Homo sapiens: one gene and its partner. Each later gene encodes a partner of the first gene's protein in a complex. Each region holds a gene or a part of one and is shown in the gene's direction. Other genes may lie near its edges. The genes, in order: NUP62 and NUP93.

The links.
Region 2: NUP62 (region 1) and NUP93 share a complex: the UniProt entries of both Homo sapiens proteins name them as parts of the p62 complex.

The regions. Positions count from the first base shown.
Region 1 is NC_000019.10:49,909,190-49,912,794, reverse strand, and holds part of NUP62 (nuclear pore glycoprotein p62), read left to right. Parts: intron 1-2,910; 5' UTR 2,911-2,987; coding exon 2,988-3,605. UniProt on the Homo sapiens protein: Essential component of the nuclear pore complex. The N-terminal is probably involved in nucleocytoplasmic transport.
Region 2 is NC_000016.10:56,736,629-56,740,128, forward strand, and holds part of NUP93 (nuclear pore complex protein Nup93), read left to right. Parts: intron 1-3,500. UniProt on the Homo sapiens protein: Plays a role in the nuclear pore complex (NPC) assembly and/or maintenance. May anchor nucleoporins, but not NUP153 and TPR, to the NPC. During renal development, regulates podocyte migration and proliferation through SMAD4 signaling.

The DNA.
Region 1 (3,605 bases):
CCCTGGGCTCCAGTGATCCTCCCATCTCAGCCTCCCAGGTAGCTGCGACTACAGGCGCCTGCCACCACGGCCAACTCATTTTTGTGTTTTTTGTGTAGAGACAGCATCTCGCTATGTTGGCCAGGCTGTTCTCGAGTTCCTGGGCTCAAGCGATCCCCCCACCTCAGCCTCCCAAAGTGCTGGGATTACAGGCGTGAGCCACCTCACCTGGCCATATCTAAACTGCGTGGATCAGGGCTGGATCAGTATGGGTTCACCATTGTGAATAGATCCCTGGCACCTGAGTATTGGAAACCAATGTGGCACTTAATAAATGGTGAACTGTTGGCCGGGCGCAGTGGCTCATGCCTGTAATCCCAACACTTTGGGAGGCCGAGGCAAGCGGATCACCTGAGGTCAGGAGTTCAAGACCAGCCTGGCCAACATGGAGAAACCCCATCTCTACTAAAAATACAAAAATTAGCCGGGCGTGGTGGCATGCGCCTGTAATCCCAGCTACTTGGAAGCTGAGGCGAGAGAATCGCTTGAACCCGGGAAGCGGAGGTTGCAGTGAGCCGAGATCATGCCATTCCACTCCAGCCTGGGCAACAGAGCGAGACTCCCGTCTCAAAAAAAAAAAAAAAAAAAAGGTGAACTGTTAAGCCAGACAAGTCCCCATAGAAGATTGTTTTCCTTGTAGTTTTTTCATAGTTGCAAAGAGCTTTTTATAAATGCTCTTCTTGGAAATTTTAGCTACAACTTATTAATAGCAAAAGCTTTTTTAAGCTGAGTTCTTGAGAACTGAGATGTGTAGGTGTAGCTGCTCAGATGCCTTTAGCTGCCAGTAACAACACACCGGCTTGAGGTGGCTCAGCAGTGAGGACTTTTGTTCTGTCCCACAACGGGAGGAATGGATGTAGGCCGGGCCAGGCCCCAGCAGTCCTGGGGGCTCAGGCACTTGCCGTGGCCTCTTGAAGAGACCTTTCTCAGAATCCCCCAGGAAAGCTTTATGAAAATGCCAGGGCCACAGCATCCCAGCCCCGGAGAGACTGGCTTAGTGGAGCTAACAGCCTTGTGTATTTTGAATGCTCCCAGTCAGTAGTGATGGACGCCCATTGAGATCTACTGGCTTAGACAAGGCAGAGCGTGTGCAGCTGGCCCTGGGGTCATCTCCCCAGGCTTGCTTGGCTGTGTGGAGAAGGAGGAGCAGACGAAACAAAACTTAGGGGCCTGTGAGGAAGCAGAAGGGTGCAGTGGAAGGGGTGGGGGTAGTGAGATAGGTTGCCTCTTACTCAAGCTGGAAGGGGATTTCCTGAGGACAGACACCAAGCAATTTAAAAACTGGCCTGGAGAGAGGGAAGAGGAAACAGACCTCGTGGGTGTTTCTCTGGGTCAGGCACTTGGCTTCTCAGTCTTGACTTTGATTATTCTTTTGTTTTTTTGAGACAGGGCCTCCCTCTTTCCATTTCCAGCTTTTAGAGCTGCTTCTGCCTTCCTTGGCTCCTGGCTTTCTCACATCTTCAGATTCCAAAGCGCATCACTCCAGTCTGCTCGTGTCACCACAAGCTTTCTTCCCTTCTCCAGTCAGTCAAATCCGTCTTCTAAGGATACTGCTGATCATCTTTAGGGCTCACGCCTGTAGTCCTGGCACTTTGAGAGGACAAAGAGGGAGGATCGCTTGAGCCCAGGAGTTGAAGACCAGGGCAACAGAGTGAGATCCCATTTCCACAAAAAATAAAAAAGATTATCCACGCATGGTGGCATGCACCTGTAGTCCTAGCTACTCTGGGAGGCTGAGGTGGGAGGATCACTTGGGTCCAGGAGGTTGAGGCTGCAGTGAGTTGTGATCATGTCACTGCATTCCAGCTAGTATGACAGAAAAAAACCCTTTCCCAAAAGAAAAAGAAACCACCCCTATTCAGCACTCCCTCTCACCCTTTCCTCACCAGGTAACCTTTGACCTTCCTGCTGATAGATGGCACCACTGGGAGATTTTTCAGTTAGACATTACCAAAATCAAGTCAGTTTGAACTGAATGGAAATACTGTGGCCCATGGGTCTTCTGGGGTGCTCTTTATCCCTCCCCCACCCCCACCCCCACCCATCTCTGGTGGGGCTCATGGTCTCCCGTGATGTCCCAGTGTCTGCAGATGGTTGAGAAGGTGTCCAAGGGAGGCCCAGGTGCAATCCTCCACACCACACCTACAGGTGAAGGAGGCAGCTGCCTTCCAAGCCTGGAGAAAACCCCAGGGGAGGCTCCGATTGCCTGGCTCAGGTCTCAGTTTATCCTTGAGCCAATCACTGCAGCCAGGGGCATCTGTGCTCTGAGCACATGGGTTTCAGACCCTCCCCTGAGTTAGGAGGAGGAGTTCCAGTGTCCTCTCCTGCTCTTAGAGAGTGCAGGTGTGGGCCTGGGGGGCCTTCAGCAACCCAGACCCTGCCATCCAGCCTGGGTTCCCGGCCCCATCTCTCTCTCTGAGGTCCAGAGAGGCCCTCAGGGTGGCAAGAGCTGATCCGCTCACACCCTGCTAGAGTCAGCCAGGGAACCTCACTGGGTCCCACGCTGGGAGCAGGTCCTACAGCTGTTCTTGTGTGTCCTAGTCCCGCTTGTGGCAGTGCCTCAAATCTGATCTCCTCAGGCTGAGGTGGGTCCAAGGTCCTGTTCTCCCGCCTCGTCCTCCACAGAGTGGGAGCTTTCCACTGGGCTGAACATGGCCACGCACGTCCCTAGCACCCCGGCTCCTCGTACCTGACCCCTGGGGCGTGCTTTTGTGCTTCTGGATCCTTCTCGATGTAGCAGAGCCTAGTTTAGGTTACACAGCATGCATCATTATCCCATCCCACCACCCTCCAAACCGACTGTGCCCAGTCATGCCACTGAGCTTGCCTTTCCAAAACTGCCATCTGACAATGTCACTTCCTCTGCTTTAGAAATCTTCCCAAGGCTGCAGACACCGACGGATTTGCTTTGGGAGCCAGAGTAGCTGCCGCCACCAGAGTCCGGAGCCATGAGCGGGTTTAATTTTGGAGGCACTGGGGCCCCTACAGGCGGGTTCACGTTTGGCACTGCAAAGACGGCAACAACCACACCTGCTACAGGGTTTTCTTTCTCCACCTCTGGCACTGGAGGGTTTAATTTTGGGGCTCCCTTCCAACCAGCCACAAGTACCCCTTCCACCGGCCTGTTCTCACTTGCCACCCAGACTCCGGCCACACAGACGACAGGCTTCACTTTTGGAACAGCGACTCTTGCTTCGGGGGGAACTGGATTTTCTTTGGGGATCGGTGCTTCAAAGCTCAACTTGAGCAACACAGCTGCCACCCCAGCCATGGCAAACCCCAGCGGCTTTGGGCTGGGCAGCAGCAACCTCACTAATGCCATATCGAGCACCGTCACCTCCAGCCAGGGCACAGCACCCACCGGCTTTGTGTTTGGCCCCTCCACCACCTCTGTGGCTCCAGCTACCACATCTGGAGGCTTCTCATTCACTGGTGGAAGCACGGCCCAACCCTCCGGTTTCAACATTGGCTCAGCAGGGAATTCAGCCCAGCCCACGGCACCTGCCACGTTGCCCTTCACTCCGGCCACGCCAGCAGCCACCACAGCAGGTGCCACACAGCCAGCT
Region 2 (3,500 bases), on another chromosome or scaffold:
GGAGTTGGGGGTGGATAACTGCATTTGGAGACATGGTGGGTGTGACAGTTATGTGCTTGAGAGGAGATGCACCAGTGGTGCCTGGAAACTCACGGTTGGAGTTTGAGTGCACGGGGGCAGGTGTGGATTTGACAGTCATTGCCATTGAGTCTTCAAGGGCAGTGGTGAGACACACACTGTGAAGTAGGGAATTTAGAGCAATATTAAAATTAACAAGTTATTAAAAATTATGTAAGATCACATATACTCATGGAAAAGAATTTGCCCTGACAAGGGAATCAAATGAAAAGTAGAAAAGTCTCCCAACTCTCACCTTGGTAATGCTAGGTTGTTTCTTGCTAAGTCAGTGCTTTGTTTCTTGCTATTCCTTCTAAAAAACTGTGAGTCAACCTTAAGTATACAGCTTAGGGAATTTTTACACATTTATTCACTTATGTGACCACTGTCCATATTGAAATATAAAGCATTTCTGGTACTTTGGTCAGCTCAGATCACCATAATAAAATATCAAAATATCTGTTGTTCTGGCTTAAACAGAAATTTATTTCCTCACAGTTTTGGAGGCTGGAAGTCCGAGATCAGGATGCCAGCATAGTTGGGTTCTGGTGAGGGCCCTCTTCCTCGCTGCTCAGTGTGTAGTCAAGACCTTTCTTTGATGTGTATGTGTGGGGAGAGGTAGGTGGAGGAAAGCAAGCTTTCTGGTGTGTCTAAGGGCACTTATCCCATCCTGAAGACCCCACCCACGTCACCTCATCTGAGTCTAATTACTTCCCAAAGACCCCATCTCCAAATAGCATCACATTGTGGGGTAGGGCTTCAACACAGGAATTCTGAGAGAATACAGTTCAGTCCTTAGTACCCGAAAAGCTCTGCTGTGCTTTCTCCCAATCAGCACTCCCCCTACACTCCCAAGGATAACCAGTATTCTGATCTTTAGTCCCATAGATTCATTTTTTCTGTTTTTAAGATCCATATAAATGGAGTCATACGGTGCTTTTTTTTTTTTCTTTTTGTATCTGGCTTCTTCAGCTCATTGTGATGTCTGTGAAATTCATCCATGTTCTGTGTAGTCTGTAGTTTCTTTTCCATTGCTGTGTGTGGTATACCAAGGTATGAATATACTGCCATAAAAAGCCCAAGTGGGATAATTCTGTAAATGCAATGGTTTTAAAATTATAATGGTAGGGACCCAGACTTTTGTTAGAATCCGCACACCTTCTGCCTCCCAAGTTGTGACAACCAAAAATGTCTCTAGCTATTGCTGAATGTCCCCTGTGGGGCAAAGTTGAGTAGCATTGGTTTAGAGAGAAGAGCCAGAGCCAGAGCCAAAGCCACAGGCCCTTTGGGGCCGACTTGGTGATCTGCCCCTGTTTATGCTAGTTGTAAGACAGAACTAGTATCATTCCTAAGGTTCTCTGTAGAGATAATTTCCATCACCACTAAAATGGGGCTGTTTCCCAGGAAGCATCAAGTAAGTTTAAAGACCGAATTAAAACATCTCACATTTGTAAATTCTTTAAGGTGAGCAGGCCCTTAGAGATCACCTGAGCAACCCCCTCATCCAGAGACGATCCAGCCCCAGGGTCAGAGGGCTGGCGTGGGATGGAGCCAAGCTGTAGTCCACAGCACTTTCTTCCCAGCTGGGCCTTCTGCTGGACAGCCAAGAGTTTATCAGAAAGTTACTATGTGGATAATTTATTTTTCTTTGTGATGCCAGGTTATTACTTCTCTTTGCTCATTGAAGAGGAAATAATACAAGTGATATTTTATGTATCAGGAAAGCTGATACTACCCATTCCTTATTGCAAACATTGAGTCACTGAGGGCAGTACTGCTACTAAATCACCCAAGTCTTTTTCTTCTGTCTAGGTTAATTTATTTTAGGTCTTTGTTTTCTCCAGAACTCTACCTTTTGAATAATGATAAGGTCTCTTTTACTTAGTCTCACAGGGCTGTAAAGAACTTTCCAACAATTTTTTTTTCCCTCTCCTCTCTCTTCCAGAGGCATCTGAAACAATGATGTCTGTCAAGATTTAATTTTTTTGGGGTTGTTGTTGTAATTGACAGCTGACAGATAATAGTAAAAAGTGGAATGATATTGTCATCTAGCTAGTTTATGTATTCAAAAGAGAGGAGAACAGAATCAGTATTAAACTTTTGATACCTTGGGTGGAGGTTTTTCTCATCAATCTTGGATGAGAAAAGAAAGAATCATTCACAAGAATGTTGAACACCATTCTTGTGTTTTACTCCTGTCATAGTCTGATTAATAAGGTTTGAGGGCAGAGTTTCTGCTTAAAATTAAATGCTAAATTTCTTTTTTTTTTTTTTTTGCACCGCCCTTAATCCATTTAATCCTGAGTGGACAACACAGCACATGTTTCAGAGAGCACAGGGTTGGGGGTAAGGTCACAGATCAACAGGATCCCAAGGCAGAGGAATTTTTCTTAGTGCAGAACAAAATGAAAAGTCTCCCATGTCTACTTCTTTCTACACAGACACGGCAACCATCCGATTTCTCAATCTTTTCCCCACCTTTCCCGCCTTTCTATTCCACAAAGCCGCCATTGTCATCCTGGCCCGTTCTCAATGAGCTGTTGGGCACACCTCCCAGACGGGGTGGTGGCCGGGCAGAGGGGCTCCTCACTTCCCAGTAGGGGCGGCCGGGCAGAGGCGCCCCTCACCTCCCGGACGGGGCGGCTGGCCGGGCAGGGGGGCTGACCCCCCCCACCTCCCTCCCGGACGGGGCGGCTGGCCGGGCGGGGGGCTGACCCCCCAACCTCCCTCCCGGACGGGGCGGCTGGCCGGGCAGAGGGGCTCCTCACTTCCCAGTAGGGGCGGCCGGGCAGAGGCACCCCTCACCTCCCGGACGGGGCGGCTGGCCGGGCGGGGGGGCTGACCCCCCCCCACCTCCCTCCCGGACGGGGCGGCTGGCCGGGCGGGGGGCTGACCCCCCCACCTCCCTCCCGGATGGGGCGGCTGGCCGGGCGGGGGGCCGACATCCCCACCTCCCTCCCGGACGGGGCGGCTGGCCGGGCGGAGGGCTGACCCCCCCACCTCCCTCCCGGACGGGGCGGCTGGCCGGGCGGGGGGCCGACCCCCCCACCTCCCTCCCGGACGGGGCGGCTGGCCGGGCAGAGGGGCTCCTCACTTCCCAGTAGGGGCGGCCGGGCAGAGGCGCCCCTCACCTCCCAGACGGGGCGGCTGGCCGGGCGGAGGGCTCACCCCCCGACCTCCCTCCCGGACGGGGCGGCTGGCCAGGCGGGGGGCTGACCCCCCCACCTCCCTCCCGGACGGGGCGGCTGGCCGGGCGGGGGGCCGACCCCCCCCACCTCCCTCCCGGACGGGGCGGCTGGCCGGGCAGAGGGGCTCCTCACTTCCCAGTAGGGGCGGCGGGGCAGAGGCGCCCCTCACCTCCCAGACGGGGCGGCTGGCCGGGCGGAGGGCTCACCCCCCCACCTCCCTCCCGGACGGGGCGGCTGGCCAGGCGGGGGGCTGAC